4 linked regions of the Homo sapiens genome follow. The protein of the gene in region 3 interacts with the protein of the main gene of each other region in a pairwise test. Each region holds a gene or a part of one and is shown on either strand. Other genes may lie near its edges.

Evidence for each region.
Region 1: the proteins of PRPS1 (region 3) and POLR3F interact in binary tests that used the Homo sapiens proteins (3 or more experiments, as listed by UniProt).
Region 2: the proteins of PRPS1 (region 3) and PGLYRP3 interact in binary tests that used the Homo sapiens proteins (3 or more experiments, as listed by UniProt).
Region 4: the proteins of PRPS1 (region 3) and TUT7 interact in binary tests that used the Homo sapiens proteins (3 or more experiments, as listed by UniProt).

Annotation. Positions count from the first base shown.
Region 1 is NC_000020.11:18,476,781-18,484,642, reverse strand, and holds part of POLR3F (DNA-directed RNA polymerase III subunit RPC6), read right to left. Parts: intron 4,606-7,862; coding exon 4,462-4,605; intron 4,242-4,461; coding exon 4,134-4,241; intron 3,025-4,133; coding exon 2,833-3,024; intron 1,163-2,832; coding exon 1,085-1,162; 3' UTR 1-1,084. UniProt on the Homo sapiens protein: DNA-dependent RNA polymerase catalyzes the transcription of DNA into RNA using the four ribonucleoside triphosphates as substrates.
Region 2 is NC_000001.11:153,302,423-153,310,284, forward strand, and holds part of PGLYRP3 (peptidoglycan recognition protein 3 precursor), read right to left. Parts: intron 6,614-7,862; exon of another isoform or gene 6,459-6,613; intron 6,197-6,458; coding exon of another isoform or gene 6,089-6,196; intron 4,846-6,088; coding exon 4,644-4,845; intron 2,644-4,643; coding exon 2,525-2,643; intron 1,588-2,524; coding exon 1,435-1,587; intron 186-1,434; coding exon 1-185. UniProt on the Homo sapiens protein: Pattern receptor that binds to murein peptidoglycans (PGN) of Gram-positive bacteria. Has bactericidal activity towards Gram-positive bacteria. May kill Gram-positive bacteria by interfering with peptidoglycan biosynthesis.
Region 3 is NC_000023.11:107,637,648-107,645,509, forward strand, and holds part of PRPS1 (ribose-phosphate pyrophosphokinase 1), read left to right. Parts: intron 1-1,647; coding exon 1,648-1,831; intron 1,832-3,254; coding exon 3,255-3,353; intron 3,354-4,718; coding exon 4,719-4,843; intron 4,844-7,529; coding exon 7,530-7,703; intron 7,704-7,862. UniProt on the Homo sapiens protein: Catalyzes the synthesis of phosphoribosylpyrophosphate (PRPP) that is essential for nucleotide synthesis.
Region 4 is NC_000009.12:86,351,122-86,359,347, reverse strand, and holds the start of TUT7 (terminal uridylyltransferase 7), read left to right. Parts: upstream 1-4,937; 5' UTR 4,938-5,077; exon of another isoform or gene 5,078-5,898; intron 5,899-6,117; 5' UTR 6,118-6,148; coding exon 6,149-6,668; intron 6,669-8,226. UniProt on the Homo sapiens protein: Uridylyltransferase that mediates the terminal uridylation of mRNAs with short (less than 25 nucleotides) poly(A) tails, hence facilitating global mRNA decay. Essential for both oocyte maturation and fertility.

The sequences.
Region 1 (7,862 bases), on a different chromosome or scaffold from region 3:
TTATCAACAACAGAAATTTATTTCTCACAATTCTGGAGGCTGAGAAGTCCAAGATCAAGGTGCTTACAGATTTGTTTTCTGGTGAGGACCCACTTCCTGGTTCGTGGATGTTTGTCTTCTCCCTTTCACATGGCAGAAGGGGTGATGGAGCTCTCTGGGTCTCTTTATATAAGGGCACTAATCCCATTCATGAGCGCTGTTACTCTCCTGACCTATCACTTACCAAAAGCCCCACCTCCAAATACCATCACATTGGAAATGAGATTTCAACATTAGAATTCTGGGGGCACACAAACATTCAGTCTACTGCAGACATTAAATAAGAATCTAGGGTAAATTCTAACAAAGAATACATTTGAGTTAAAGAGTGAAACATAAGACTTTAAGAAAGAAGGAACAGTGAAAATATTCTTTAGAATGAAAATGATAGTATTTATGTACTGAAAATATGTCCTTGACAGTAGTCATTGGGTTTGAAGTAAGTATGGTAGCATAATCTCCTAAAAGAACATTTCTGATACAAAAAGGAATTAATATTGTGCGGAAAAGGCATGTTCCACTCTCCCCCAGTCATACCCCAAGTTTGCACTCTTTGCTATTCCTGCCTTTAACCCCTTCTAATTTCTTTTCAATGAAACCACTGAGAAAGTAGGAAACAGAAAATGGTGGTAGTGAACCAGATATAAAAAAAAACTTCCAATGAAGAACTTAATAAATAACTTTAAAAAGAACATTTTTATACTCTAGCCATTATCATAGTACTTGGTAAATACGGGTATGTTGGCATCTTTTTCCTTGACCCATCAGAAGTCTTGAAAGATGTGGTCCTCCGGAGTTTCAAAGTGTTTTATTTATTGAAGAATGAATTTCACTACTAACCTTATTTCTTTCATATTCTACTGGCTATTTTACCAATATAAATTTAGTCTTCATAAATAAAAAAAATATGTTTTCATAGCAGCAAGTCTACGTCCATTATTGTGAAGTTTGCTTTCAAGGAGATTTCGTGTTCCATCATGAATTAAATTATCTGCTCCCTAAGTAACTTCATTTGCAAAATGTCAATAAAGTTCATAGCTCTCTATTAAAATTCGAGCCACTCTGTCATGTAAATACAGTTAGATGGTGAAATCTCACCACCTTCGTGGCAGTCATCAAAAACCTTTAAAAAAGAAAAAAAAATTATATTCAAATTAAAGTTTTAAAATATCTAAGACCCAACCACTTATTTAAAGCAAGATTAAAAACAAAACTTTCAAACTGAAAGGGACTAGGACTGTACTTAAGAACATATTATAGCCGGACGCAGTGGCTCACACCTGTAATCCCAGCACTTTGGGAGGCCGAGGTGGGTGGTCAAGACCATCCTGGCTAACATGGTGAAACCCCGTCTCTACTAAGAATACAAAAATTAGCTGAGCGTGGTGGCAGGCACCTGTAATCCCAGCTACTCGGGAGGCTGAGGCAGGAGAATTGCTTGAACCTGGGAGGCAGAGGTTGTAGTGAGCCAAGATCGTGCCACTGCACTCCAGCCTGGGCGACAGCAAGACTCCATCTCGGGGGGCGAGGGGGGAGCGGGAAGAACATACTATAATAGGGCCTGCTTTGTGATCATCAAGTTAGGAGTAGTAGAGAGGCTTTTTTTACTGTGGCATTAAGATGACCATGCTCACCTGTCTGCTGGGCAAAAGGCTATCACCAGGTAACACAGGAATATGGGCAGGGAGACCTATACATATGAATGACTTAATTTTGATTAACCAAATGTTTCATGTTTAGCTACCTTTTTGTGAAGGGTGCAAAACAGAATTCCTAATATGTTAGCCTTTTGTCTAGGGACTGAAACCAAGGCATAGAGAGCTTAGGCATATAGACAAAGGTTGGTATAATGAAATAAAACACACACAGGCTCATCTATAAATGCCATGAGGACTGGGACAGTGTCTCTTGCTTTCTCTTGTATCCTTAGTGCCTAGAGCATAGAGTTGGCACTTACAATATTTGGGAATGAATGAAGGAGGAGTGCTGGGGCATGCTGCAGGGGAAAGACATGATCTCTGGGTTTGAATCCCGGTTACTTCTAAGCTGTATGCCCCTATGTCTTCCTAAGCCTAAGCTCCCTCACTTTTAAGGGGAAATAACACCACTAGCTTCAAGAATGTAAGGAGGATTAAATGAGACCGCCTATGGAAATCATCAAGGACATATCTGGCCCAAGGTAGGTTCTCAACAAATCTCATTTTCTGCCCTATTTAGGTGAAATGATTAGCCCTCATCAAAAAGTGTCCATTTCAAGGCCAAGAGCAGAAAACGTAAATATCCTTAATGTGGTTGTTCCAAGAAAGAATGTAAAGCAGGGGGCCAGGTACAGGGGCACATGCCTGTAATCTCAGCACTTTGGGAGGCTGAGGGGATCACCTGAGGTCAGGAGTTCGAGACCAGCCTGGCCAACATGGTGAAACCCCGTCTCCACTAAAAATAAAAAAAATTAGCTGGGCATGGTGGTGGGTGCCTATAATCTCAGGTACTCAGGTGGCTGAGGCAGGAGAGCTGCTTGAACCCGGGAGTTGGAGGTTGCAATGAGTCAAGATTGTGCCACTGCACTCCAGCCTCGGTGATAGAGTGAGACTCCGTCTCAAAAAAAAAAAAAAAAAAAAAAGTAAAGGAATGATGTGTTCATTAAAGGTCTGTTCATCAAGGTTTCATGGAGGTTTGAATAGCTCTTGGTCAACCCTAAGAGTCTGAGAAAACTGGGCTGTGCTTGCTCTGTTTCTTAATGTGGCACTTGCACCCGTGGGCAGTCAAGTGTAAAGTGAAGCCACTTTAACTCACCGGGCAGAGTCCACAGGGTGCCCGGACCAAACCTGTGGGAGGGATGATTGGATTGACTGCCCTGTACAGTTTCATGTGTCCATCTACACTGCCAACTGTGCCTTCTTTTGCAGCAATAATCGTCATCTCCACTTTTCCATCATAAATGAGTGTATTCAGGATGGTTTCAATGTCTTCCATGGATAACTCTACCTAAAAAAGGGATACATCAGAAAGGACACAAGTAGGATAGGGAGACATCCACTTGGAGGGTGTTAAAAACAGTAAAGGGTTGCTGGGCGCAGTGGCTCACGCCTGTAATCCCAGCACTTTGGGAAGCCGAGGCAGGTGGATCACTTGAGGTCAGGAGTTCGAGACCAGCCTGGCCAACATGGCAAAACCCTGTCTCTACTAAAAATACAATTAGCTGGGTATGGTGGCAGGCACTTGTAATCCCACCTACTCGGGAGGCTGAGGCAGGAGAATGGCTTGAACCCGGGAGACGGAAGTTGCAGTGAGCTGAGATCGCACTACTGTACTCCAGCCTGGGCAACAAGAGCCAAACTCCATCTCAAATAAATAAATAAAACAGTAAAGGGTCATAATTCTGCTGTGAAATGGGAGAAACATTATGCTGGGGTGGAGTAATTTAAAGCACAAAGAGGAGGAACAATAGGCCAAGTTAGCACAAACCACTGAGGTGCCAGGGACAGAACTCTAAGCTCATGCTGAGTTTGACACTTTCTGGTATCTTTACTTCCTAAGTAAAATCGAGAAATCTTATAAAAAATAACATTTCTTTAGCAGGAATTTATTGGAGATTTATAAAATGCTTGAGCAGAAAGGCACTTTAGACATCAAATAGTCCAAGTTCCTAGTTTTTATGAGAAATCTGAGGCCCAGGAAATTAAAGTGACATGTCCAAAATGGCCACTTTGATTTCTTCACTGTGAAAAGCATCAGTGTCCTTAAAAAAAGAATTTCAAAAGGCTAGGGTACAGTGGCACTTTGGGAGGCCAACGCAGGAGGATCACTTGAGTCCAGAAGTTCAAAACCAGCCTGGGCAACAAAATGAGACCCTACCTCCAAAAAAATAAAAAAAGCATCAGTGTCCCAAGCTGAGTATCAGTTCAGACAATGCCCAATGGCAGTGACTGCCTTTGCCTAAGATACAGGACAGTATTTTCCCAAAGTGGATTCTGCAGAATGTTCGTAGCTATCATCTCAAAAAAAAAAAACAATGTGGGTCAAATACATGTTTGGAATACATTGTATGTGACAAAGAATAAGTTTTAAAAAATAAGATGAAATTCAGTTCTGACCTTACTGATTCCCAATTCGCAGATATATTTCCACACTTCATGTGATGAGGCAAATGAACTATTTCTTTGTATCATTGGGTTCTGTTTGCTTTCTCGTGCTGTTTCTGCCTATAAGGATTGAAACATAAGAAATGTAAATAAGAATATTGGTGTGTTTTCTGAATACACTTTATACTGAGTCAAACCAACAACAGAACATATTTAGTTAAGTAAAAATTCCCAATTTCAGGTTTTTAATTCCTATAAAATATGATAAATAGATTAAAATCCTTTGTGAAAAACTTTTTACAAGAGGGTTTGCAGTGATGTTTCCTCAATCATACCTCACCTTGGACTGTAGGAATTTAAAACACTGTTGGTTAAGCACCTCTACAAATTCAGATTCAAAATCCTGGTCACTGTACCAGGCTCCACCAGTCACAGACCGGTCTGGCTGCAGGTTATAGAGCATATACACCTTCTTTTTTGAGGCCTAGGAAAGAACATGCACAGTTCATGTGTTTATAAGATAACAATTTCCAAAAACAAAAACACCTATATTTTGGAACAGTTTAAGATGTACAAAATTATTGCAAAGATAGTACACAGAGCTCCTATATACATCATGCTGTTTCCCCTATTTTTAACATCTTGGATTAGTGTGGTACACTTGTCACAATTAATGAACTAATATTGATAAATCATTACTAACTAAATGCCATACTTTATTCAGATTTCATTAGTCCTAATGTTCCTTTTCTGCTCCAGGATTCCATCCAGGACATCATACTACATTTAGTCATCTCTCTCAGGCTTCTTTTAGTTGTGACAGTTTCTCAAACACCGTATTTCTATCACTATGGACTCATGAGTATTTATTTTATACTTTGATTTACATTCAGATACTTCATTGTTATTCCCACACTGGAAGCTTTGGAATGCTTTGGGCATTGGAAGCTTTTCACTTGGTTCCTGTATCCCTTTGCTATGCTCCCATCGTGTGTGTGTGTATTTTAGCACTTTTTTTTTTCTTTTGGAGACAGGGTCTTGCACTGTCGCCCAGGCTGGCGTGCACTGGTGCAATCTTGGTTCACTGCAACCTCTGCCTCTTGGGTTCAAGTGATTCTCCTGCCTCAGCCTCCCGAGTAGCTGGGGCTACAGGCATGTGCCACCATGCCCAGCTAATTTTTGTATTTTTAGCAGAGACGGGGGTGTCACCATGTTGGCCAGGATGGTCTCGATCTCTTGACCTCGTGATCCTCCCGCCTCAGCCTCCCAAAGTGCTGGGATTACAGGCATGAGCCCCCGTGTCCAGCTATTGTAGCACTTTCTTACTTTCTAGCACTACAAGATGTCAAGAGCATTTTCTTTTCTTTTTTTTTTTGAAACGGAGTTTCGCTCTTGTTGCCAGGCTGGAGTGCAATGGCACACGATCTCAGCTTACTGCAACCTCCACCTCCCAGGTTCAAGCGATTCTCCTGTCTCAGCCTCCCGAGTAGCTGGGATTACAGGCGCCCGTCACTATGCCCAGCTAATTTTTTTGTATTTTCAGTAGAGATGGGGTTTCACCATGTTGGCCAAGCTGGTCTCTAATTCCTGACCTCAGGTGATCCACCCTCCTTGGCCTCCCAAAGTGCTGGGATTACAGGCATGAACCACCCTGCCCAGCCGTCAGGAGCATTTTCTACATGTTCATTTTATTGCATGATAGAAACCACGACTTGGGCACTAGATGTGTTCATTGCCATCGGGATGTCATCACTTCTAGGCCTTCTCAGTTGGCAGCACGAGATTTATGTGCGCATATTAACCCTTGTATATATACATAGCTATACTCAATATTTCTAAATATAACCATCTATATTATTTATATTAAATTACACAAGAGTCCATACTGATGTTTTCAAGTCTAATCCATTACTACATGGATCATTCTAACTTTCCTTGTTTGTCTGTAACTACTCACCCCAACACTGAGGAACCCAAATTTCACTGGGTTGTAAACATGAAGAATTTGGGCCAGGCATGGTGGCTTATGCCTGTAATCCCAGCACTTTGGGAGGCTGAGGTGGGCAGATCTTTAAGTCTAGGAGTTCAAGACAGGCCTGGGTAACATAGTAAAACCCTGTCTCTACAAAAATACAAAAATTAGCTGAGCATGGTGGCACGTGCCTATAGTCCCAGCTACTTGGAAGGCTGTGGTGGGAGGATGGCTTGAGCCCAGGAGGTTGATGCTGCAGTGAGCTGTGATTGTGCCACTGCACTCCAGTCTGGGTGACAGAGCCAGACCATGTCTCAAAAAAAAAAAAAAAGAAAAAAATTTGGCTAGACTTTGTCCCTTTTTCCTAGGAAATAACTTCTACATCTTTGGAATTTCCCAATAGGCCTTGTTATTCATGGTGAATCCCTTAGATCACACCTGGGTTTATGCTAACAAGGTGACTCCTGATAGGACTCTAAATAGTTTCAGGATAGGAGTTGTCCATGCTGGAAAGACCAACCGCATGATTAGAGGGTTGGGGCTTTGGGCCACATGACATCAGTCCAATCTCTTGGGAGAAGAGAGGAGCTGGAGATTGAATTCACTCACATGACCAAGGATTCAATCAATCATGCCTGTATAATGAAACCCTAATAAAAACTTTGGACAGCAAAGCTTGGGTGGGCTTCCAAATTTGGTTAATGCTTCTGTCATACAAAATAATTTCACCACCCTAGAAATATTTCTCATGCTTCACCTATTCAACTTTCCCTACCATCCCTGCCCTCACCCCGATCTTTTTAGTCTGTCTAGTTTTGCCTTTTCCAGTATGTCATATAGTTGTAATCATACAGTATGTAGCCTTTTCGGACTGGCTTCTTTTACTTAGCAATATGCATTTAAGATTTACTCATATCTTTTCATGATAGCTTATTTCTTTTTATAACTGAATACTATTCTGGTTTGTCTATCCATTCACCTATTGAAGGATACCTTGGTTGCTTCCAGTTTTTGATTATGAATAAAGCTGCTGATTACGAATAAAGCTGCTATAAATATTCATGTAGTTATGTGGACATGAGTTTTCAAATCAGTTGGGTAAATACTTAAGAGCTTGACCTTTGGACAATGTGGTAAGACTCTGTTTAGTTTTGTAAAAACTGCCCAGTTTTTTAACAAAAGGACTGAAAATTTTGCATTCTTAGCAATGTATGAGTGTTCATCTTGGTCTGTATCTTGTCAGCATATGGTATTACCAATTTTTAGATTTTAGCTATTCTAATAGGTGTGTAGTGGTATCTCACTATACTAAATTTTATTTTAATTTGCAGTTCTCTAATGAAAAATAATGTAGAGCATCTTTTCATATGCTTATCTGCCATCTGTATGTCTTCTTTGGTGAGGTTCAGATCTTTTGCTCATTTTTAGTTGGATTATTTGTTTTCATTGTGTGTTTTTTTTTTTTTTTCTTTTTTTGAGATGGAGTTTCGCTTTTGTTGCCCAGGCTGGAGTACAATGGTGCAATCTTGCTCACTGCAACCTCTGCCTCCTGGGTTCAAGCAATTCTCCTGCCTCAGCCTCCCAAGTAGCTGGGATTACAGACATGTGCCACCACGCCTGGATAATTTTGTATTTTTAGTAGAGACAGGGTTTCACCATGTTGGTGAGGCTAGACTTGAACTCCTGACCTCAGGTGATCCACCCGCCTTGGCCTCCCAAAGTGTTGTTTTCTTATTGCTGAATTTTAGGAGTTCTTTGTATATTTTGGA
Region 2 (7,862 bases), on a different chromosome or scaffold from region 3:
ACAAAAGTTCCGTGTGTCCATGTGAAAGGACTGTATGTTTCGGACGACAGTCTGGCAGTCTGTGGATACAGTGCAGCTTGTGCCAGCGGTGTGGATGATGATGACATATTTGGCTGGGAGGTTCATTTTAGGGCAGTGTGTCTCTCTGGCTTCCCAAGCAGATCGTTTGATGATGTTGGGGCAAACTGTGGTAAAATGAAAAGCCAAGGAAGTAGGAATTTTTTTTGCCTCTCTGTGAGCAATCACTCAACTCCAGGCTGGATTATTCCTCAGCCTCTCCCAGGCCTCCAGCACCCACGGGCACATCCTAATGTAATATCAGCTTTGGGATTCTGGGGAAGTCCAGTTGGGAGGTTTCTGATTCAGATGGCTGGAGCCAAGGGGCTGAGGCAAAAATCTACAGGCCTGATACCAATAGAAATCAGCGTATAAGCAGAAGGGAAAGGGCTGTGGGTTATACAGAGGCATGGTCATTGTCTTCAAAAGACCATGCATTGCAAATATATATGCAGGTATGTGCGCTTATGTAACAGGGCTACTACGCGGAAGTCAGTGGACTCTCCGAACTGATCACACATATTTGGAAACAACTTGAAATCTAGAGAGAACTGTACAAATATTAAGAAATTATCATTATTGAAGATAGTGCCTGTCCAAAAGCAAGAAACATTTTATTTGAGATTTACAGTTTTAAAAAGCTAATTCTAAAAATATCATTGATCCCAAGAAAAGGTCCACTAGCAGGAGTGCTTATTAATTTGACTGGTTTTAGGTTGCTGCTTATTCACTTCAAAATAGTGCATTATTTTTATTACTCAGCTTTTTGTTATATGCACTCTGATGTCAGCATCATCTGTGAGCACAAGCTTTTCTCCGAGCTGTGGCTGTGCTGTGGCCATGGCTGGTTTTTGCATTTAGAAAGGTATGTAAGCTTATGTATGTCCTTCGTGTCCCCACATAATAGACACAACTATGTATACATGTTAATCCCACTCCATTCCCACTCTATTTTTCTCCATAGCTTTTATGCCGTCTAACATCATATACATTTCTTTGTTATTTTGTTCATTTTCTGTCTCTTCTCACTGAAGTGCAAGCTTCCTGAAGGTGAAGAGTTTCATCTGTTTTGTTCACAGCTGTATGCTCAGTACTTAGAACAGTGCCTGCTATGCAGTAAATATTTGTTGACTGACTGAAAATCTGTGTACATATGTATTTGTTTTAAGAAGAAGTCTATGGCTATCTCATTCTGATGGGATGGAGAGGAGGCCAGGAAGATGCCCTCTCAGAATTTTCCAGATCTCAAAGTAGGCATGAGATGTTCTTAGTCCCAGAATCCCATGGGGTCTAACAGGAAAAAGCACTCCCAAACATGACTCCAAACATGGCTAGGTGGTGACGAGGAGGAGGGTGAGGTGACATGGAGGGTCTTACCCTTCCTGGGCATCACTGGATGTTGAGGGTCCAGGCAGGTCTCTTCTTTCAGAAGAAGTGGCTGAATATACCTGGGCGACAGGTGACCCTTCTGGATGGCATAGGAGATCAGACCCTCTGCAGCTGATAAGGCAGCAGGGCTGGGACTGCTGCCTTAAAGAGGAGGACAGGGAGCACAAAAATGTCAGTAAGAAACTCCACCTAGACCAGACACCTGCAGAAAGGATGATATGACCACTTGAGCCTGAATAACTGGATTGGAAGAGAGGAAACTGGTCCAGTTGCCAGAACAGAGTGCCTAAGAGGCGAGAAGCTACCTAGATCTCTTAGCAGCCAAGGTTGAAAACTTCTTCCAAGAGCCAAGCTAAGACTTTATCCACTCCATCTCTAGGCAGAAGAGCTGGAAGGCAGTGAAGGATACATGCAAAGGGAGGCCCACCTGACCAAGTCAGGTGTGCACTAGCACAGGAGAAAAGGCAACCAGAATTTACTCATAGCTCCCCTGATCAGGTGTGCAGTAGGCTTTTTATATCTGTTAACTCATAACTCTCACAGAAAACCTCTGAGAGAAATGCTGTTACCTAGCCCCAGCTGTCAAATGAGGATGCTGGCAGGTGCTGGTTCCATATGTATTATTTCTCAGCTCCATCCCTGTTCTGTGCTTTTCTCTATTTTTCTAGGGGCTAGAAGCCTGCAAATTATACCTCCAGATTTCCTTGCCTGCTGCCTTCTGGTCACTTTCTACCAGTGGAACTGGAATAAGAGATGAGCCATGCTTCTCTGCCTCTGGCAGTCACAGCATCTATGTCAGACAACCTCAGACTTTAGAAGTGACAGCAATAACCGTGAGCTCAAGCAACGCCCATGCAAGCTTCAGCAATATCACAGGAGTACAGACCAGTAAAGAGAGGCAGAGGACAAAAAGTATGCATGTCACAGGATCCAAAGGAGAAAAGAATTTCAAGAGAAGGGTGATCATCAGAGAAGGTAAGTATGATGTAGGGTAAAAAGATGAGTGTTGACCCTTGGGAGTGGAGGAAGAGAGTGTACACAACTCTCCAGCACAGGGTCCGCAGGGAGTGACCCTTACCTATCTTATTGCCAAAGAAGGCGATGCCCAGGGAAATGTTGTTGTAGCCCTGGGTGTGCAAGCCTTGGATGTTCCAGCCAACACCTTCATACACCCTGCCATCATCCCCAACCAGGAAGCTGACAAGAAGGAAATAATGATTTTACTGCAAATCTCCATAAATGAAAACCTCTCACTGATCCTCAAAAGGAAAAGGGGTTCTGGAGGCTCATAAGTAAGTACTATGTTCCAATAACAAAACAATAGGAGGTGCAGAATAACCAGTTTTAGACCTCCAAGAGACATGGGAATATATTTTAATTTTTGTTGGGATTTAGCTTGCATGTGTTTTCCAGAACCTCACTTCAAAAATACTCATTTGGTTCAAAGTGGAATTTGACTGCATGACACTCAAGGACCTGAGGACATTAGTTCAATGCTTTTCAAGAGCTTAAAAATTACTACATCATGTTTTTAAATTATAGGACCAAACACTTGAACATTCTCTAAAATAATTATGCCAGATTCAATAGTTCCTTTTGTATTGATGTTTTTCTTCAGATTCTCTTTAGGAATTTCCTTAAGCTCTTCTTTATCATAGAAATTTGTTTAGAATGTTCCTTTTTCACATTTACTTTTTAAATCAATTTTTTATTCTACTTCTTTTATTCCTGCCTCTTTATAATTTCTCTCCTCCACTTTCCAATCAGTCTTCAGAATTGATGTTTTCACAACTTTGCCGTATTCATCTTTTAATAGAACATGAGTTTCCGCAGCAAACTGAACACAGAAAGAACACCTCCCTTAGGTCAAGGAAAGACACTGAACTGAGTCAGGCCGACTTTCCACCCTACACCGATGTCGACATGAGGAATGGGTGTGGAGCCTGGTGTGTCCACCCCTTCCCTGGCTTTGCTGCCAGTACTTTCACAGGTTCCTTGGTCACTCCTGCAGCAGCCTGTGGTTAGTACGGTGTGAACAGTCCCTTACAGCTACTGTCAGCTGCATTGCAAAAACTGGAGATTGTCAAGTTGTCACTGTAGAAACCTGACTTAGAGATGCAGAGGCTGAAATAACTTAGGAATACAGTGACCAAACCAGAAAACACAGCAGCGACAACAGCAGGATGGTGGAGGTGCTGGTGGCAGGGGCAGCAGGTGAGTCGTGGTTGACATGACATGCCCCATGGGCAGACAGGGAAGACCCAGCCATCCCAGGGGTGCTGGGGGCCAAAACCAGGGCCTGCAGCTGCTCTTATTTATTTGTGTTTAAAAATAAATAAATAAATAAATAAGACTTAGATTTTCCTTTCCAAAATGGATAATTCAGAAATTATTTATGTTTGTCTTTAGAGTTCCATGCGGGACAGCCCCATTCCCACTCTCTCTTTCCCTCTCCTTCTACATGTGTCTCCTCATTCTTGAGGCTAAGGGAGAAAAGGTTCTGGGCTTCCACTGATGATCCCCAGAGCAGAAACTCAATGCACAGTGCACAGCTCCTTCATGCCCTCCCTTGTTTCTTGCGGGTCTCTCCTCCCCGCCATTCCCAAAGCCCACTCTCCCCGGTGGGGTCCCCGGACTTGCTGTCAGAGTGGTCTTTCAGGGTAACAAGTGGGACACTGCTTCCCAGGTGCGAGTCCCTGTGAGGTGGGGAGGAGCAAGGGCTACACTGGCAGGTGCTCTCACACAGCTCTGGGTACGTGCTTCCTCTCTCTGAGCAGAGCTTTTAATTCCCCCAAACCATGGCTTTCCCGCCTGTGAAATAAGGGTAGGAATATGGGTAGGAACCCATTTCTCAGAGTAGCTGGGAGGGCCAAATCGGGTGATATTTGTGAAGACCTCTGTAAACTGTAACGTTTCGTGAGTTCCAAGGACTCAGTTAAAACTGCAGTTGTTACGTAACCTTCCTTGCTTTTTCACAGGAGCACCAGAATCGAAAGCCACTTAAATAAGTGGCTTAGAGTCATCCCTCTTACAATCCCCGAAGGATTCGGATTTTGTTTGATTCCCCTTTTACCATTTCTATTCATTACAAAAGCAATGTAAATGAAGCGCAGAAAATAAGAGCCACAGAGAAGGGGAAGTGGGAAGCACCCCCGTGACTTTGGATGTGGGCCTCAGGGACTTGGCTAGCCTCTTACTTGTACGCCACGTCGCACCAGCCTATGGTGTAGACGGAATGGGACTGCAACCCCCGCAGCATCTGGCTGCAAACGCTCTGCTGCTGGCACTGCATCCCTGGGAGCTGGTCTGTGATGATGTAGGCCACAGGCAGGGTCAGCAGGGCCCTGCAGGCGAGCGGTCTTGCCCCCCACTCCTTGCGGGAGACGATGGTGGGAGTATCTGTAGGGAAGACCACAGAATGGCACATAGCAGGCCCTGCCCATCTTCCCCCAACAGGTCGACCATGTGCCCTGACCTCTCATGCTCAGGCCCGACCTGCCCCATGCATGGGAGACACCCTGGGGGAGCCCTTCACCACCAAAGCCCCCTCCTTCTCTCCACTGTGGCTGAACCACTGCCCAGACACACGCTGCACTCAGCCTGGGAAGTCGTGCCGCCTTGTTCCCAGACAATCTCTCCTTGTCTTTCCCTGAAGGGCAAATCCCATCCCCTACTGCCCCCTGGCCTACATGCTCCCCTCCTTCAGAAAGCACCCCAGCCAACCCCGCCGCCCACCCTGGGGCTCTGAGCTGCCTCCTTAGCCCAGAAGCCTGAGGATGCATTTTCCTCACTGCCATTTGCCCTGGTCTCAACTGTGTCTCTTGTCTTCCCCTCCCCTAAGAACCATGACTCTCTGAAGGAAGCTCTATCAGTCTCCTCAACTAGGGACTCCAGAGCCCACAGGAGGCTCCATAAACACGGGGTCTGCACCTCTTTCTTCCGGGCGAACACTCCCTAGCGGCAGGGCTGTGAGATCCCACCTGCCGCGTCAGGCTACCTGAGGGCTCCCTTTCTCCATTCTCATCATGGGAGCCCCAGGAGCGCTCTGAGGGACAATGGAGACACTGTCATGCTGGAGCTGGGAGTGGAGGACATGTCTTTTCTCTCTGGGTTTTTTCTCCTTCTCTCTCTCTTTTTTTTTTTTGAAATGGAGTCTCGCGCTGTCACCCAGGCTGCAGTGCAGTGGCGCGATCTCGGCTCACTGCAGCCTCCACCTCCCGGATTCAAGCAATTCTCTTGCTTCAGCCTCCCGAGTAACTGGAATTACAGGTGCATGCCACTATGCCAAACTAATTTTTTGTATTTTTAGTAGAGACAGGGTTTCACCGTGTTAGCCAGAATGGTCTCGATCTCGTGACCTCGTGATCCACCCTCCTCGGCCTCCCAAAGTGCTGGGATTATAGGCGTGAGCCACCGCGCCCAGCCTCCTTCTCTTTCTTCATTTGAGTTTCTCTTCTTTTTCTCTCCTTAGGCTGAGGAACTCCCCTTTGCCTAAGGACTCAGGATGATCCATGGGAGTGGTTGGAGACAAACCTCCTGGGATTCCTCCCCACCCCTTTGACTTTCAGCCCAGACATTATCAAGTCCTGAGAAACATTTCTGACCACTTAAGAAGCCCCAGCCAATCTCCAAACCGCCTCACCATTGCGACCCTTGTGAATGAACTGTGAGATGCTGACAAACAGGTCCATAAGCCTCTGGGACAAGCCTCTGGCTTGGGTCTCACTCCAGGAGAACTGTGGAAAATCCCCTGCAAGAGAGCACTGGTGCATTGGTGCACTCCTTGGAGTGCACATGGCCAGCAAGCTCAGAGGCTGGGCCAGACATCCCACTCTGCAGTGCACAGCCTCTCCTCCTCCCCAGGTCACCTAACGTCTTCTAGCAAGCACACAGAGGAGAACCACAGAAGTCTCTGGCCTTGGCCTGCCTCTGCCTTCCACATCTGCCCAGAGAGGCCTTTGTCCTCCCACCTCCCCCAGCCTCCCTCCATTCCAGGAGCACTGCAGTCTCACCTGCTGCCTTATCTGGGCAGTGCCACCTTTCCTGGTTCACCGGCAGACCTACTAATCAAACCGTCGGTACCCAGCAGAGTGTCCCATACCAAGACAGTTGTGACATGTTGAGCTAACACACATGTCTTAATCACCTATTGGTGCCAGACAAGGTTCTTGAAACAGAAATATACAGATTATTGTGACCGCCTTCAAAAACTAGACGTTTTAGAGATGTTTTACTGTGGATTAGCCACTGCCAGCCTGTCCTTATCCCCCATTGCTCCCATTCAGTACCAGGGGTCCTGGGAGCAGTAGCCAATGGCAGCAGTGACATTGTTAGCAACCCCATCTCCCACAGACCAGCCCTGTGGTTACAAAGCACATCCAAGGATGCTATCAGAATTGTGGCTTAAAACAACTTCATGAGTTAAGCAAAGCAACTATGCTGTCTATAGAGAAGGGAAACCAAGTCTTAGGGAAGTTAGGTTACTTGTCTAACATAACAGAGGTTTTAAGCGTAGATTTAGATTCCAATCAGAATCTCTGGCCCCGAAGCCCCTGTTCATAACAACTGTACTCTGCAGCCTCCCCAAAGTTGTCAGATGAACTTGGGTTAGTCACTGCCACAATGTGACCTGTTTCTCTTCCTACAAGACAAAGTCACTGAGGGTCTCCACCATGATTCTGAGGTTCTGTCCTTCTGTGAAATCAAGAGCAAATACATGACCAGGACCCCAAGTCCAAGGTGTGCTGGAGAGACTGCTGAGGACAGGAGCCCACCTCAGCAGGCAGAGGGCCTAAGCTGGGCTGTGAAGGGGACACAGAGGACTGGGGAGGGGGAGGGAGGAGCCCGGAGAGGACACTTTACAAATGAAACCCACAGGACTCTCAGAGTGGAAGAGCAGCCCGCAGGCCAACACTGACACCTGGCAGGGCAGGAACCAGGAGGCAGGGATGAGGACCACACAAAACTCCCTGCTTTGCTTGGGCAAGTTAATTTCCCCATCAGGGCCTCAGCTTCTCCATTCATACAATGAAAGGCCTGTGAGTTTCTCTAACACTAACTCCAGGTAATCCCATTAAATTTGCTGTCTGAGTAGCAGAGGACAGAGAGAAAGCTATATTACATTTTTCCTTCCGAAGGGGGTCTGTGTATGTAAAACAAACTGAAAAACATGTCATATTTAAGAATCACCAAGCTCACTTTCATTTTAATTCAACAGCATTTATTTAATGAACATTGCTATGTGTCTACTCTTATGTATATAACGATAAGAAATCTTCTTAATCTAGAGAAACGGCATTGCTACTCTTGGGGAATTTGCTTTTATTTACAAATGTAGACCCAAGTGCTGGGTTTAACTATGACTGGTATAATAACGATGGTGACAATAATTAAATCATAGCTACAAATTACCCAGC
Region 3 (7,862 bases):
ATGGTAATATTAGAAAATATTACCATAGAAAATGGTAATATTTGTATAGTGCACTGGAGTAAACTGAGGCAGTGAACTGCTTCTGGTATAAGGCTCCTTCAGAGGATCTCCTGAAGCCTAGGTGATCAATATCCACATGTAGCTGTAACCATTCACAGCATACTAGTAGGGAAGCTGTTCTTAGACCTTATTGTCTATAGAAGTATAGTAAAGTCATCCCTCAGTATCCACAGGGGATTGGTCCCAAGACCAAATCTGCAGATATGAAATAGTGTAATATAAATATATATATATATATATATATTTTTTTGATATGGAGTCTTGCTCTGTCACCCAGGCTAGAGTGCAGAGGCACGATCTCTGCTCACTGTAATCTCTGCCTCCCGGTTCAAGCAATTTTTCTGCCTCAGCCTCCTGAGTAGCTGGGACTACAGGTACCTGCCACCACACTCAGCTAATTTTTTTTTTTTATTTTTATTTGAGACGGAGTCTCACTCTGTTGCCCAGGCTGGAGCGCAGTAGCGTGATCTTGGCTCACCGCAACCTGTGCCTCCCGGGTTCAAGTGATTCTCCTGCCTCAACCTCCCGAGTAGCTGGGACTACAGGCGTGTGCCACCATGCACGGCTGATTTTTATACTTTAGTAGAGATGGGTTTTCACTGTGTTGGCCAGGCTGGTCTTAAACTCCTGACCTCAGGTGATCCACCCATCTTGGCCTCCTAAAGTGCTGGGATTACAGGTGTGAGCCACCACACCCTGACTAATTTTTTTATTTTTAGTAGAAACGGGTTTCACCATGTTGACTAGGCTGGTCTTGAACTCCTGACCTCAGGTGATCCGCCCACCTCAGCCTCCCAAAGTGCTGGGATTATAGGCGTGAGCCATCACGCCCGGCCATATGAAATAATCTATGCACATGTTCCCTTATACTTTATTGTTATTTATTTATTTTTTGTAGAGATGGGGTCTCACTGTATTACCCAGGCTGGTTTTGAACTCCTGGGCTCAAATGATCCTCCTTCTACCCTGCCCCCTGCTCCCCAAAGTGCTGAGCCACCATGCCAGGCCCTCCCATATATTTTATTTTATTTTATTTTATTTTTGACACAGAGTCTCACTCTGTTGCCCAGGCTGGAGTGCAGTGGTGTGATCTTAGCTCACTGCAACCTCCGCCTCCTGAGTTCCAGCGATTCTCGTGCCTCAGCCTCCTGAGTAGGTGGGACTACAGGCGCCTGCCACCATGCCCTTCTAATTTTTGTATTTTTAGTAGAGATACATGGTTTCGCCATGTTGGCCAGGCTGGTCTCGAACTCCTGACTTCAAGTGATCCACCCACCTTGGCCTGCCAAAGTGCTGGGATTATAGGCATGAGCCACTGCGCCCAGCCCTGCCATATACTTTAAATCATCTCTAGATTACTTATAATACTTAATACAATATAAATACTACGTAAATAGTTGTTATACTGTATTTAGAAAATAATGACAAAGAAAAAAATCTGTACATGTTCAATACAGGTGCAATTTTTTCTCCAAATATTTTCAATCCACACTTGGTTGAATCCATAGATGTGGAACCTATGGATATGGAGGGCTGACAGTACAGTGGTTTAAAATCTATTTCATGTTCTTTCTTTCCTCATTGTAGTGTGGAAATTGGTGAAAGTGTACGTGGAGAGGATGTCTACATTGTTCAGAGTGGTTGTGGCGAAATCAATGACAATTTAATGGAGCTTTTGATCATGATTAATGCCTGCAAGATTGCTTCAGCCAGCCGGGTTACTGCAGTCATCCCATGCTTCCCTTATGCCCGGCAGGATAAGAAAGATAAGGTAGGAGCAGAATTTTATTTTTTGAGCAGAGGAAGCAGGAGCACTTGCCCCAAATCACAAATAAATTCCAAAATTATCAAATATATATTTAGGGGGAATTTTAAAAATCACCTTTTCTTAGGTATTACCCTATCTTCAAAACAATAGAAATATAATTGGTTTGTATAAAGCAACACATTTGTAGTCTGTATTTTATTACAGTGATACATATATAACTTTCAGTTAGCTCACTGGTATTTTTAATTGTATCAGTAAGACTAAGCACCAACTCCTCTGGAGTACTGGAGTATATTTTTAAAATTACGGTAGATCCTCTCAAACTGTAAGATTGGGATCCTAGTTGTGACCTCTTCATAAAACTTGAAGTCTGTTATATGAATACTTGATCTGATAGATACATAGATAGATAGATAGATAGATAAACTATATATATCTCTCACCTTATCCTGGTATATTAGAGGATAAGGCATATACATAAAACTTTGCAAGTCTATTGTAATTAATGCCCAATTTTACACACAATGCCTCGAAGAAGGTCAGATATTTTTATTCCAACAGAGTATAAAGTAAAGGGCATGGGCCGGGTGCGGTGGCTCACGCCTGCAATCCTAGCACTTTGGGAGGCCGAGGCGGGAGGATTGCCTGAGCTCAGGAGTTTTGAGACCAGCCTGGGCAACGCTGTGAAACTCCGTCTCTACTAAAATACAAAAGAAATTATCCAGGCGTGGCGCTGCGCGCCTGTAGTCCCAGCTACTCGGGAGGCAGAGGCAGGAGAATTGCTTGAACCCAGGAGGCAGAGGTTGCAGTGAGCTGAGATCATGCCACTGCACTCCAGCCTGGGCGATAGAGCAAGACTCTGTCTCTACAAAAAAAAAAAAAAAAAAAAAGGCATGCATGGACTTTGCTATTTTACAGTGCAGCAAGTATGTTTTATTTGAGGAGTTCATAGTTGTTGGAAAGTTGACCTCCAGATGAGTAAGTAGTGATGTGATTTACAAAGGAAACTATAATATCTATTCTGTGATGTATCTTCAAACCTTGACATGTTAGGTGTTAAAGGTTTACATATGTATGTGTTGAAAGAGATTTTAATAAAATTATTTTTTAAAGTCTGCCTAGTTTGAATAATTGAGCATTGGAAACACTTGAATAGGATTGAAAATGTGTACATTAAGAAAACAAAAGTTAGGAAAGCATTTTCTTTATTGATAAGTGTATCCTGATTTGGAAAAGTGATGTTCCACTTAATATTTGTTCTGAATTATGATCCACTTAAAGTCAATGGACATGTCTCCTTCTATGAATTTCTGGGTACCATAGTGCCTTTAACATAGTAGGTACACAATAAATAGTTTCTTGAGTAAATGAATTGTTTTTCAAATTGGCTTTTTGGTTTTTCTTTTCTTTCCTCCCCTCCATTTAGAGCCGGGCGCCAATCTCAGCCAAGCTTGTTGCAAATATGCTATCTGTAGCAGGTGCAGATCATATTATCACCATGGACCTACATGCTTCTCAAATTCAGGTATCAGTGGAAGCTAAATATTGGTGTTTGAAAGGTGGGAGGAAAGGACTGATGATGCTGAAGACTGCAGAGAAGCCAAAAATTATGCCCAAGTACATCTGAAATAAACTAGATATCAACAACATTTTAAATGTGTTCACCTTAAGCATACTTCATGATCTTAGTCATTTCAGGTGGTTAGATAGGGAGGCAGTCTAGTTTTATGGGAAGAGCACTACTTTGAATAAAGGCTCTGGTATTTACTAGCTTTGTAAGCTTGGGAAGGTTACTTAATTTCTCTGAACATATACTTTTTCATTATTGTGAGTATAAAACATTAAATTCATATTATAATGCCTGGCCCATGACAGGTACTCATAGATAGGAGCTGTTATTATCATTCTTATTCTCCTTGAATATTCATGGAGTGCAGTGGCACGATCTTGGCTCACTGCAACCTCTGCCTCCTCAGTTCAAGCAGTTCTCCTGCCTCGGCCTCCCAAGTAGCTGGGATTACAGGCACCTGACACCAGGCCCAGCTAACTTTTTTGTACTTTTAGTTGAGATGGGGTTTCACCATGTTGGCCAGGCTGGTCTCGAACTCCTGACCTCAAGTGATCTGCCTGCTGCAGCCTCCCAAAGTGCTGCGATTACAAGCATGAGCCACCGTGCCTGGCCTCATGGTCTTAAATTTAGAGCCACAGATATTGGAGCCTACTTTCCAACATAAACCCAAAGTAAGGGGGGTGGAATACCACCTTTATTTTATATTTTTTCAAAGAGATTTTTCAAATCATTACATTTCAAGCTTGTGGGAATTCAATGAAGTACATTGGACAGGGACTGTACTCCTTTTATGGAAAGGAATGACTTAATTGAGAAATACAACTAATTTGTATCAACTAGAATTAGAACACAGATCTCCTGATTTCTAATTATTCACTGTGACTATTTATCATAAGTAGCTTCCATTAAGTTTATATGCCATAGCATCTCTAACTGGTTTATCCATTAGCTTTTACTCCTTAACAAATCAGTCCAACACTTAGTGGCATAAAGCAGTATTTACAAACTCACTGAGTCTGCATGTTGACTGGGCAGTTCTTAATGGTTTTGTCTGAACTTAGCCATTCTTTACAAGGGCTCACTTATGTTCCTATGTTCAGTTGTGGGTTGACTGAGGGCTGGCTTTGCTGATCTTGGCTGGGCTCTCTCACATAGCCCAGATTCAAGGAGGCTTTTATAATCTACCACACTGGGCCTGCCTTCCCATCAGTTTGAATGTTGCAGTAAGACATTCTCTGAGCAAGTTACTACTTTGTGTTTGCCATTTATAAATGGAAGAGAAGGAAAGTGAAGCAAAACTGATCCAGCTTCTTTCTACAGGGCTTTTTTGATATCCCAGTAGACAATTTGTATGCAGAGCCGGCTGTCCTAAAGTGGATAAGGGAGAATATCTCTGAGTGGAGGAACTGCACTATTGTCTCACCTGATGCTGGTGGAGCTAAGAGGTATGGTTGAAATTAGTATTGTTCCCAATGTACTGGGAAAATCTTTCAGATGGTTGTGTCACAAAGTGAAGTTTTTCTATCCAAGTGGCAGTTTTTAAGTATTTTTGAATGGATGTAAGTAGCTAGCACATGGGTTGAATATAGTTTTACCCTTTCCTCTTTTACTGTCCTCAGTTACTACTCGGAAGACAAGACAGAAAAGGGGTCCTAAATCATCATATTATGGATTTGACTATAACTTATGAGTAACTTGGTGCTACAGAGCTAGCAATACAGCTATAAACCTTTTGGGAAGGGTAGAAAATGTGGTTTTCTAATGAATAGCAGCTGCTATTGAACCACATATTGGTGGACAAATTCGCTTTTACACTCCTCTTACAATGCTGTTGGTTAGATCATTTTGATCCTTGGGATTAAAATATTAAGCAGGAAGGAAAGTAAAGTGTGACATTTTTATTTAAAGCCAAGATCTTAACATTTTAAACAAACTGATTGCCAGGGATTGCCAGTTAACAGTGCTTTGCAGCTCACATGGTGCAGACTAAGAGCTCTTGATTTCCTTAGTGGATTACTCGTTAGTAATGCATTCAAAAGTGTGACACATGTTCTTCTTGTTGTGGAAATAGAATGAAGAGCTACAAAACACAGATGATTAGGAAGAGCTAATTCAGAACTTTCTAAAAGCCATTCAAATCTTCAATGACTGTTTCTCAACAACCTCTTTTATTTCAGTAACTTCAACAGAACTGATAAGCTGAGAACTTGAGTTATGTTATCCAGCCAGATATATGGGTTGGTGAGTCCCATGTAATTGCTAGTTACCATCTGTAATGCTAGAGACAGCCTAAGAAACATCCCCCCAACTAGTAGTTGTCATATTTAATTTGTCGGTCATTATTTTAATATCTTTCTGTGGGACTTAGAAAATAGTCACATTTGAAATAGGCAGGATTTTCTTTCCAAAGGTGGGTATAGGAAAACTGCCTTTAGTAGACAACTTATTGCTACCTGATTTTTTTTTCATTATCATTGTCTTATAGTGATGGAGTATTTTACAATTGAGTGTCTATCACTTCTGTGTTGGCAGGGTTTGGGGAGTAGGTAGAGATCCCTGTGTGATATTCATTTGTACAGTAGTTCTCTCCTCAAAAGGTGTAGAGAGTTACTTTTTCTAGCCCTTTTTATGCTTTGTTGGTCACTGAATTTGTTGGCCTTTGAGTATGGTTGGTTTGGGATACTTGAACTAATTGATCATGCATTTGCCTTGGGTAAGTAATCATTCCAAGCGAATTGGTTACCACTGATGTTATGTGCTTATGCAGTAGTAGTAATGGAGAGTACAGGGTATGGTTGGTTTAGATCAAGGTACAAATGTTACCTAGATTATGGTTCAAACCTTATTATGTGGTCACAGGTTCTCACTTATCCAGCAAAAACTCATGTGACCATAGTCACAAGAGAAACAGGACAAAATGCTATAGTTTGTTCAGTTCTACATTAAAAAACAGGACAAATCCCCAAGCACGGGCTGCTTCACACATGACGGAGATGGCACAGCGGAGCATGGACAGACGTGCCACTGGGGCAGCTCACTGTCATTTACACTGAATAGATTTTTGTTTGAATTATGTGGTACTTTGTCAAAAGACAAATTTGTCTTCTATCCTACCTTCTAGTCTGGTTTATTTTCTCTTGTAATAAGAAAAATAAGAATTCTCTTTGATTGGAAGATACTTTGGACCGAATGGTGAGATGCCTAGCTTGTCTGGGTAATTGATATAACTTTCTGTCTAGCAATTGTGAAAAAAACTCCCAAGCTTGGTGTCCAGGTACAGTTGACAGTGACAGTTGATGGATGTTTTGCCAACAGCACTGAGGGAAGTGATGAGGACACAGGCATTGGAACAGGCTGGATGCTGCTCCTCTCCTGCCAGTCAGGTTCTCTTCTCACCACATCCCCATTCACGGGTCTTCCATGATGGGAATTGGGACAGTCTGTGTACTCCTGGCATTAGTTAATTCTTTCCTCATTCCTTCTGCTGCCAATCCATTAAATAAACTTGCGTGTCTTAGCGTTATACTGCTTCCCAGTACTGGTGAGGGTGTCTGTCCTCTACCCAGAATGAATACTCATCTAAGTTTGATCAGTACGTTCATAAGCTTCTGTTGAGCTATGGAGGCACTGGTTTATAAAACCCAGTTTGTGATATTTGCCTTTGAGAAGTCAATGATAGTTGCTTTCATTCTTCCAGCCCTGGGAACTATTGGTTTCAAGGAGTATTCTCCTCCCCAAAACAAGCCCATTCTTTAGTCCATTTCTTTTTTTCTTTTTTTTTTGTTTTGAGACAGAGTCTCGCTCTGTCACCCAGGCTGGAGTGCAGTGGCGCGATCTCAGCTCACTGCAAGCTCCAGCTCCTGGGTTCACGCCATTTTCCTGCCTCAGCCTCCCGAGTAGCTGGGACTACAGGCGCCCGCCACCATGCCCAGCTAATTTTTTGTATTTTTAGTAAAGATGGGGTTTCACTGTGTTAGCCAGGATGGTCTCTATCTCCTGACCTTGTGATCCGCCCACCTCAGCCTCCCAAAGTGCTGGGATTACAGGCGTGAGCCACCGCCCCCGGCCTCTTTAGTCCATTTCTTTTGTCTTAGAAGCCACACATACATATGAACACGCTCTGTTTTGCAGAGTGACCTCCATTGCAGACAGGCTGAATGTGGACTTTGCCTTGATTCACAAAGAACGGAAGAAGGCCAATGAAGTGGACCGCATGGTGCTTGTGGGAGATGTGAAGGATCGGGTGGCCATCCTTGTGGATGACATGGCTGACACTTGTGGCACAATCTGCCATGCAGCTGACAAGTAAGTGTGGATTGATGGGGCTGGTAGTTAGAAGGAAAAAGCTAGCAATTGCTGTCTGAATGTCTTCAGCCTGCTGATTCCTTTTGGAACCAAATTGAGGGGATAAGTAACTTTGTGAGATTTTTATCACCCAAGGCTTAAATTATAATACATAGAAAT
Region 4 (8,226 bases), on a different chromosome or scaffold from region 3:
ACCTACAGGAAGGGAGGGACTTTCTCTAAACTTCCTTTATCTGATTAAGGGAAGTTTCTCCAGAAGAAATGCAATTGTCTTAGACCCCCTCCTTGGAATCTACACTAACTAGAGAAGATGAACTCGTATCTCAGGAGAGCCCAGGACAATGTACCTGGACAGGCTTTTTTTTTTTTTCTAGACAGAGTCTCACTCTGTTGCCCAGGCTGGAGTACAGTAGTGCAATCACAGCTCACTGCAGCCTCGACCTCCCTGGGTTCAGGTGATCCTCCCACCTCAGTCTGCTGAGTAGCTGGGACTACAGGTGTGTGCCACCATGCCAGGTTAATCTTTTGTATTTATCGTAGAGATGGGGTTTTGTCATGTTGCCCAGACTGGTCTCAAATTCCTAGGCTCAAGTGATCCTCAGGCCTCAGCCTCCCAAAGTATTGGGATTACAGGTGTGAGCCACCACGTCTGGCTGGACACACTTTTCACCTATTTTTTTAAAACCATTTTTCTAGTCTGAAAGACTTTATCTGTATAAGAAGAAACTTTTGCTCAACACACACTTACTCTACCCTCACCTTTCAATGACTGTGGTCACCACCTCCCCATCAGAGGCCCTGGTTTCTTTCTGTAGCTCAGGGTCCCATTTAAGCTTCAGCCATTTGGCCCTTCTTTGAGTTTCATACTTTGTTTGGGTCTCGCTAGCTTGCAAGTTAATAAATCGATATGTTTTTTCTCCTGTTAATCTGTCTATTGTCAGTTTGTTTTATAGATTCAAACCATCAAAGCTTCTGAGGGTATAAAGTTCCTTCTGCCTTTACAGAAGCAATTATACCAACTTGGTGTCCTATAATCCATTTCAATTCTATCTACCTGGCAATAGTGTCAGATCCCACAGGTGAGGGCTCAGCCCTACGAGTTTGCCCCCACTTCAGATACCAGTCACAAGTCAAAGCCACCCATACTTCTGACTGACTGGTTTCTGAGGTTCCCGTGTCCCCAGTGGCCCAGAGAACTCAGGGAAACACGCTTACTGGTTTATTATAAATGATATTATAAGGTATACAGATGAACAGCCAGATGAAGAGGTACATAGGGCAAGGGCACAGAGCTTCCATGCCCTGTCTAGGTGAGCCAACGTTCAGCACCTACATGTGTTCAACTATAGGGAATCTCATCAAATCTTTTTGTTCAAGACTACTTAGAGAGCTTGATCTCCGGCCCCCTCCTCCCCTTCACAGAGGTCAGTTGGTGAAGCTCAAAGTTCTAACCCTCTAATCCTCCAATCACTTGGTCTTTCTGGTGATTAGCCCCATGCTGAGGCTATGTAGGGCCCCCATCCTAAATCATCTCATTAGCATAAACTCAGGAGTTTAGGGGCTCACTATAAACACGGAAAGACACTTCTATCACTCAGGAAATTTCAAGGATTTTAAGAGCTCTATGACAGAAACTGGGGACAAAGGCCAAATATATTTTATATTATACCACTGGGGTAAGAGGAATAAGGGCTGAGATCGGGAGGTAAAGGGAAAGGCCCTGAGTCATTGAAGGATTTTGGTTTTTACTCCCAGAGAAATTGGGAGCCAGTGAAAGGTTTTGAGGGGTAACTCAGTCTGATTTTTAATATGCATTTTCTGGCTATTGTGTCAAGAGTAGATTGGAGGACAAGGTGGAAGCAAGTGATAGTGGTGAGCATTTGGCTGGAAGCAGAGAAAGTAGTGATAAGTTACTGGACTCCAGACAGATTTGAAGGACAAACCAACATAACTTGCTAACAATGTGGATAAAAACCGCTGGCATTTAAGCATTAGAGCTCTAAAAACCGAAAACCAAACCAAACCAAACAAAATAAAACACTGGGGAAAGAATTTGGCTGATAAAGCTATGAATATAATTCCTGTATTTCTGACTCCATGGCTGTATAGAAAAAAAGCACTGGGTTTGTTCAAAGTTGACTTGTCAAGATGTATTACAATGTTAATTTCAAGATAGAATTACAAGAATGTCAAGATGTATTACATGTGTTACAATGTAAACTTCAAGATGTATTACATGTATTACAATGTGAATTTCAAGATAGAATTACAAAAATGCCAAGATGTATTACATGTACTACAATGTTAATTTCTAGATAGAATTACAAGAATGTCAAGACATATTATGTATTAAATGTTAATTTCGAGATAGAATCACAAGATTTCAAGTTGTATTACAATGTTAAGCTCAAGATAGAAAATATATTGTAACATATGGAGCAGTATTAAGGTCCTCTGAACATTGCTTAACAGTATATGGCAGCCTTTGCCCTCACATTTCTGCTCCAGGTTGTTGGAAATATGTCAAGACCGTGAAGCAATCACCATAAAGATTCTGAGAAACTCATTAATCCTTCCAGTGACATCCAAAGAAAACTCAAATCAAAATTTCCAACCAGATTGTAAGAATTCCTAGGACCAATTTAAATATCCATTACAGCATAATATGGACAGAAAAAGGTATATTCTGCTGTCAATATATTTTGATTAGTACTGCATCTTATTTGAGAGAGCCTGATTTGTCCTCAAAATGAATCTTAAAAGCAACCATTAGAATAAAAGAAGTTGGGCTTTGGGAAAGACGTTGAAGAAAACGCAAATTCAAAACGTTTTATTTTTTAAATTTATTTTTGAGAGAGACAGGGTATTGCCCTGTTGCCTAGGCTGGAGTGTGGTGGCACCATCATAGCTCACTGCAGCCTCCAACTCCTGGGCTTAAGGTATCCTCCTACCTCAGTCTCCAGGGTTGCTGGGACTACAAGCAGGAGCCAAAGTGCCTGGCAAAAGTATTTTAAATCGGGCCAGGCCTGGTGGCTTACGCCTGTAATCCTAGCACTTTGGGAGGCCAAGGCCGGTGGATCACTTGAGGTCAGGAGTTCCAGACCAGCCTGGCCAACATGGTGAAACCCCGTCTCTACTAAAAATACAAAACTTAACCAGGCATAGTGGTGCCTGTCTGCAATCCCAGCTACTTGGGAGGCTGGGGCAGGAGAATCACTTGAACCTGGGAGGCAGAGGATGCAGTAAGCCAAGATCGCACCACTACACTCCAGCCTGGGCAACACAGTAAGACTCTGTCTCAAAAAAAAAAAATTAAATCCTTAGAAAGATGTATCCTCTGCTGCTGCTCTAGAACTCTAGGTGGAGGCAAAGGTTGCAGCCAGCGGAGATCATGCCACTGCACTCCAGCCTGGGCAACAGAGTGGCACTCCATCTCAAAAAAAAAAAAAAAATCCTTAAAAGTATGTATCCTCTGCTGCTACTCTAGAACTCTAGGTGGAGGCAGATTTCTAAACCAGTTCTTTTGCACAGGAATTACTGGTTTGGGTGGGGCGTGGTGACGCTGCTGTCTCAGAATTAATGTAATCATGCATCTCCACACTCCCTTTTGGACTATATTTTCAAGGCCACTGTCTGCCTGTTGAAGAGACTATCAGTTTGATCCTCACGTATTTTCACAATCAAAATATCTAAGTAAGGAATTATATAAAAGTTGTAGGAATGTGTTTTATATCACTTTTAGTATAGCCACATGGTTAATAACAGCCTCATATTCAGGGTCTGGATTGCAGCAGTGCCATTTACTTCACTGCAAGTGCTAAATGTCCTCATCTTTAAAAGTGGGATAATGATATAGTCTTCATGAAGCTGTGAGGATTAAAGAAGTTAAGGCTGGGTATGGTGGACCACCCCTGTAATCCCAACACTTTGGGAGGCCAAGTTGGGCGGATGGCTTGAGGTCAGGAATTGGAGAGCAGCCTGGGCAACATAGGAGACCCCTGTCTCTACAAAAATATAAAACAAAGGAGTTAATATTTGTAAAGCCTTCAAAACAGTTATTGGCATAGCCAGAACTTTGTGTGTTATTATTTTAAGACCATTGCTCCACAGGACCTGACAGCTTTCAATTTACATGCTTTAAAAAAGCAGAGAAATGAAAACTGTCGATTTTCCCAACGCTCCCTAATTTCACTAGTTGCTTGATGTTTTTCAAAGCATTTAGAACACTGTAAACAGCAAGGAAGGTCATACAGTAAAGAAAGAAAAAGCAACCCCGAGTTCGAGGTGTGCACTCTTCAACTCAAAAATTCGAATGTAACGCTCTCTGGTCATCCCTTGCCATTACACATATTCTTCGAAATGAACTGATTTTTTTTTTTTCCAAGTAAAAGTAATCCTTACACAACCTAAGAAAAAAGCAGAGCATTTTCCTTGACCACTTTGAGATCTGGGTGAGCAGTGGATGTTTAAATGCTGGCATTTCTACAAGGTCGGCAATTAAGAATTCACGAAAACATTAATCACTACGAATTATCAGAAAAACACCAAGAGCGCTACGAGGCCTCGGAGCCTTTACTCCCCCTGGAAGTAACCGGGGAGCACCCAGGGGCAAAGCCGAGGCCCCAAGCGCGGGGAATGCGGCTTTGCCCGACCGCTGGCTCCGCGTCCCTCTCCGGGTGCATAAGTCTTGGCTCCCGCGCCTCTCCCGAGCACTTAGCCTCCCGAGCAGAGAGGGGAACCAGAGGAGCGTCGAAGCCGGGAGAGAAAAGGGGCGGGCGCCGCTCTGGTAAGAAGTTCGGGCCTGGCCCCCAAGCGCCGGCGAACCGGCTATCCGGCGAGCCAGTAATTAGCCCGCTCCGACGGTTGCGCCCGGTGGCCAGACCCGGCGCCCGACACCTGGAGCGAGTGCGCTGGGGCGCCGGACAGGAGAGGCCAGGCTGGCAAAGGCGCGGGAGGCGGGGTCGGAGCGTGGGCGGGGCACCGCGGGGCGGGGCGCGTCGCTCGTTTCCGGTGTGCGCGGCGGAGCGCTAGGGCGGGGGCACAGTCGGCTCCCAATCGCGCACAATGAGACAGCGCTGAGCGCCGGAAGTGGGGCCGAAGGAAAACACGGAGAGGGAGCCCGGCCGGGACAGGAAGAGGCTGGGGACCGCGGCGAAGGTGGTGAGTGCTCTTGGGCGCCTTCTCCCAACGTCCCTGCCAGACTCGCCTCCGGGCTGATTCTCCAGTTGGTTTCCTGGACTCCAGAGTAGCTGTCCGGCCTGGCCCCGGAGGTACGTTGGTTCCATCCCCCGCCGGCCTCCTCGCACCAGTTTGGGTGACCGAGGAACCCCCAGGCCGGCAGAGGCTGAGCCCTCGGGTTCGAGTCCGTGTTTTCACTTTTTGTCAGACTGCGGGCGCAGAAGACGGGATTTGGGTCAAGACATTCGGCTCTGGCCCCCTGGCCGGCCGGGGGAACCCTGGAACCCCATGGAGACAGCAGGTCACTTCCTGCTTCCTGGTCCCCACGGTGGCTTCTTGGCCAGGAGTGCAGGGACGCCTCCTCTTTCTCCACGTCGGGCTCAAAAGGGTGGAAACTAAGGCAGATCGGTGGTGGAGCGGTCAGATGGGGATTGAAGAGGAGTGTCATTCCTCAGGGAATTGCTGTTCCTGACAAAACCAAACTTGTTTGGGGTTGGAGAACGGGGATTGAGGAGGTTAGATGGAGTTGTCCCTTGATCGGAAACCCAGCCTCTTTAATTACAGCTGCACCTTGGTCGGAAGCCCAGCCCCTCCGTAACCTAAGCGCTCAAAGCCGGTCTGTCCAGAATAGGGGTGGTGAAGGGACGGAAAATTGGAGTTGAGAAATGTAGTACTCCTTTCACGTAAAGTTTCGGTGTATAACACTTACAAGTAATTGCCAACTTAAAAAACAAAAGACTGTTTCGGTAGTTTAGTAATAATATTGGCTTGGGATGAGGTTTTCTTTGAAGAGAAACGCCTTGTTACAGAGGGAAAAGCCGACCATACTTGATATGAGTAATATTCTACTATGCTACAGTTCTGGAACCTATAGAGCTTCTCTTATTCACACATTTAATCTTCATGCTAAATAGTAAGTATTAATTTTCATGAAGAATATTAGAGGACCAAGCCTCCCAACCTCTAGGGTAAAGCACTGATTATTAAGAATGTGATAGAATTTTTATTTTAAAAAAATAGGGAGTTTCTTTCTTACAGGCTTTGGGGCATCTGTACGATAAATTGTTATTTTGTATACTTGTATGATATCTTGTTATATAGTTTGATATTTCCCCAAAATACCTTCTTTCAGGTGCAAAGTAAGAAAATTGAAGTCAAAGACCATGGGAGATACAGCAAAACCTTATTTCGTGAAGCGCACTAAAGACCGGGGGACTATGGATGATGATGACTTCAGAAGGGGTCACCCCCAACAAGATTATTTAATAATAGATGACCATGCTAAAGGCCATGGCAGTAAAATGGAAAAGGGCCTTCAAAAAAAGAAGATAACACCAGGGAACTATGGGAATACCCCCAGAAAAGGACCATGTGCTGTTTCCAGCAATCCATATGCATTTAAAAACCCAATCTACAGTCAACCCGCTTGGATGAATGACAGCCACAAAGATCAGAGTAAGAGATGGCTGTCTGATGAACATACTGGTAATTCAGACAACTGGAGAGAATTCAAACCTGGACCTAGAATTCCTGTTATAAACCGACAAAGAAAAGACTCCTTTCAAGAAAATGAAGATGGTTATAGGTGGCAAGACACAAGAGGCTGCAGAACTGTAAGACGACTGTTTCATAAAGACCTAACAAGCCTAGAAACCACGTCAGAAATGGAAGCAGGAAGTCCTGGTAATGTTTTCCAACTTGTCAGATCACAACCCCAGAGTCAGCAATGTTTTATTCTTTTTCATCCAAATGAGTTTTGTTATTTTCAGCAATTTAGTTTCAGTTTTTCACAGTTTCTGTTTTAAGAAATGGTCACTTAGTGTGATTATTTTAAGGATAGTAATCATGATATTTGAGCAGCTAAAACACATTTCATATGTTGATCCCTTTAAAAGTTTACTTTGCCCCAGGGCTCACTTTACGTCAGTAAACATGTTTTCTGTAACGTGTTTTTTACAGAAGAGGGTAGCTATATGCTCCAGGGGACCATATCGTAATTGCTCAGTGGTTTGTGTGTTTTCAAAATTGTGATTATAATTTTGTATTTGAATAATTAATGTGTTCATAATATAAATGACAGAATATAAAGCTTTTTTTAAAAAAAAAACTTATTTGTTGATGTAAAAACACAGTATACACTGCGTATATCTCCTGCCACAAGAGATATATCTTTTGGATGTAGTGTCAGTGTCCCGAGATGGATAATCTGAGATCTTTGTTTTTCAAAAGGGATCGTGACAAACAGGTTGAGAAACAAGTTTAGAAAGTCAGAAATAGATTCAAGCTTTGCTGTTTGGTTTCAGTAAGACCAAAACTAATTTCTCGGTGCCCTCACATGCTTGGTTAATTGCCCCAAAGGGATAATAAGGAGATAATATGTTTTTCTAAAAGTAAAAAGTAGATTTTATCCATGTGGCAACGATTTCTGCAAACAGGAAGGTTATTTTTATCTAATGGGAGATATATACCGAAATGAAATAAAGTCACAAATTGGATGGAAAAAATGAAACAATATCACAGTTGGAAACATGGACTTGTAAGTTTAGTGGCTGAAAGCGTTTTTTAGTGGTTGTATAGAATGTGTTTCAAACTGGCCAGCACTTTTAAATAAATTTTTTTAGTTTAAATGCATTCAGGGAATATGGACACTTTCTAGATCACCCGATGCCTTTTCTCTTCATGTTATCTCACAGTGGCCAGTTCATACACTGGTTACCTATAAGGTGTTTGAATTTGTGTCCCATGCGTATAGAATACTTAAAAGCCAAAAGGTCGTCTTTTATCTTTACAAGGTCTTAGGATAAAAATGAAAGTCTCAAGCACTTATTAATATTAAATGGGGGGAAATGTGCTACTTGATTTTTTTTCTTTTTTCACAGATACTTCTAGTTGTCAGATCTGTTTATTTATATTTTATTTTATTTTTTGAGACGGAGTCTCGCTCTGTCACCCAGGCTGGAGTACAGTGGCGCGATCTTGGCTCACTGCAACCTCTGCCTCCTGGGTTCAAGCGATTCTCCTGTCTCATCCCCCAAAGTAGCTGGGACTACAGGCACATGCCACCACATCAGGCTAATTTTTGTATTTTTAATAGAGACAGGGTTTCACCATGTTGGCCTGACTGGTCTCAAACTCCTAACCTCCAGTGATCCACCCACCTTGGCCTCCCAAAGTGCTGGGATTACAGGCGTGAGCCACCACATTCAGCCTGATTTTTTTTTTTTTTTTTTGAGACAGTCTC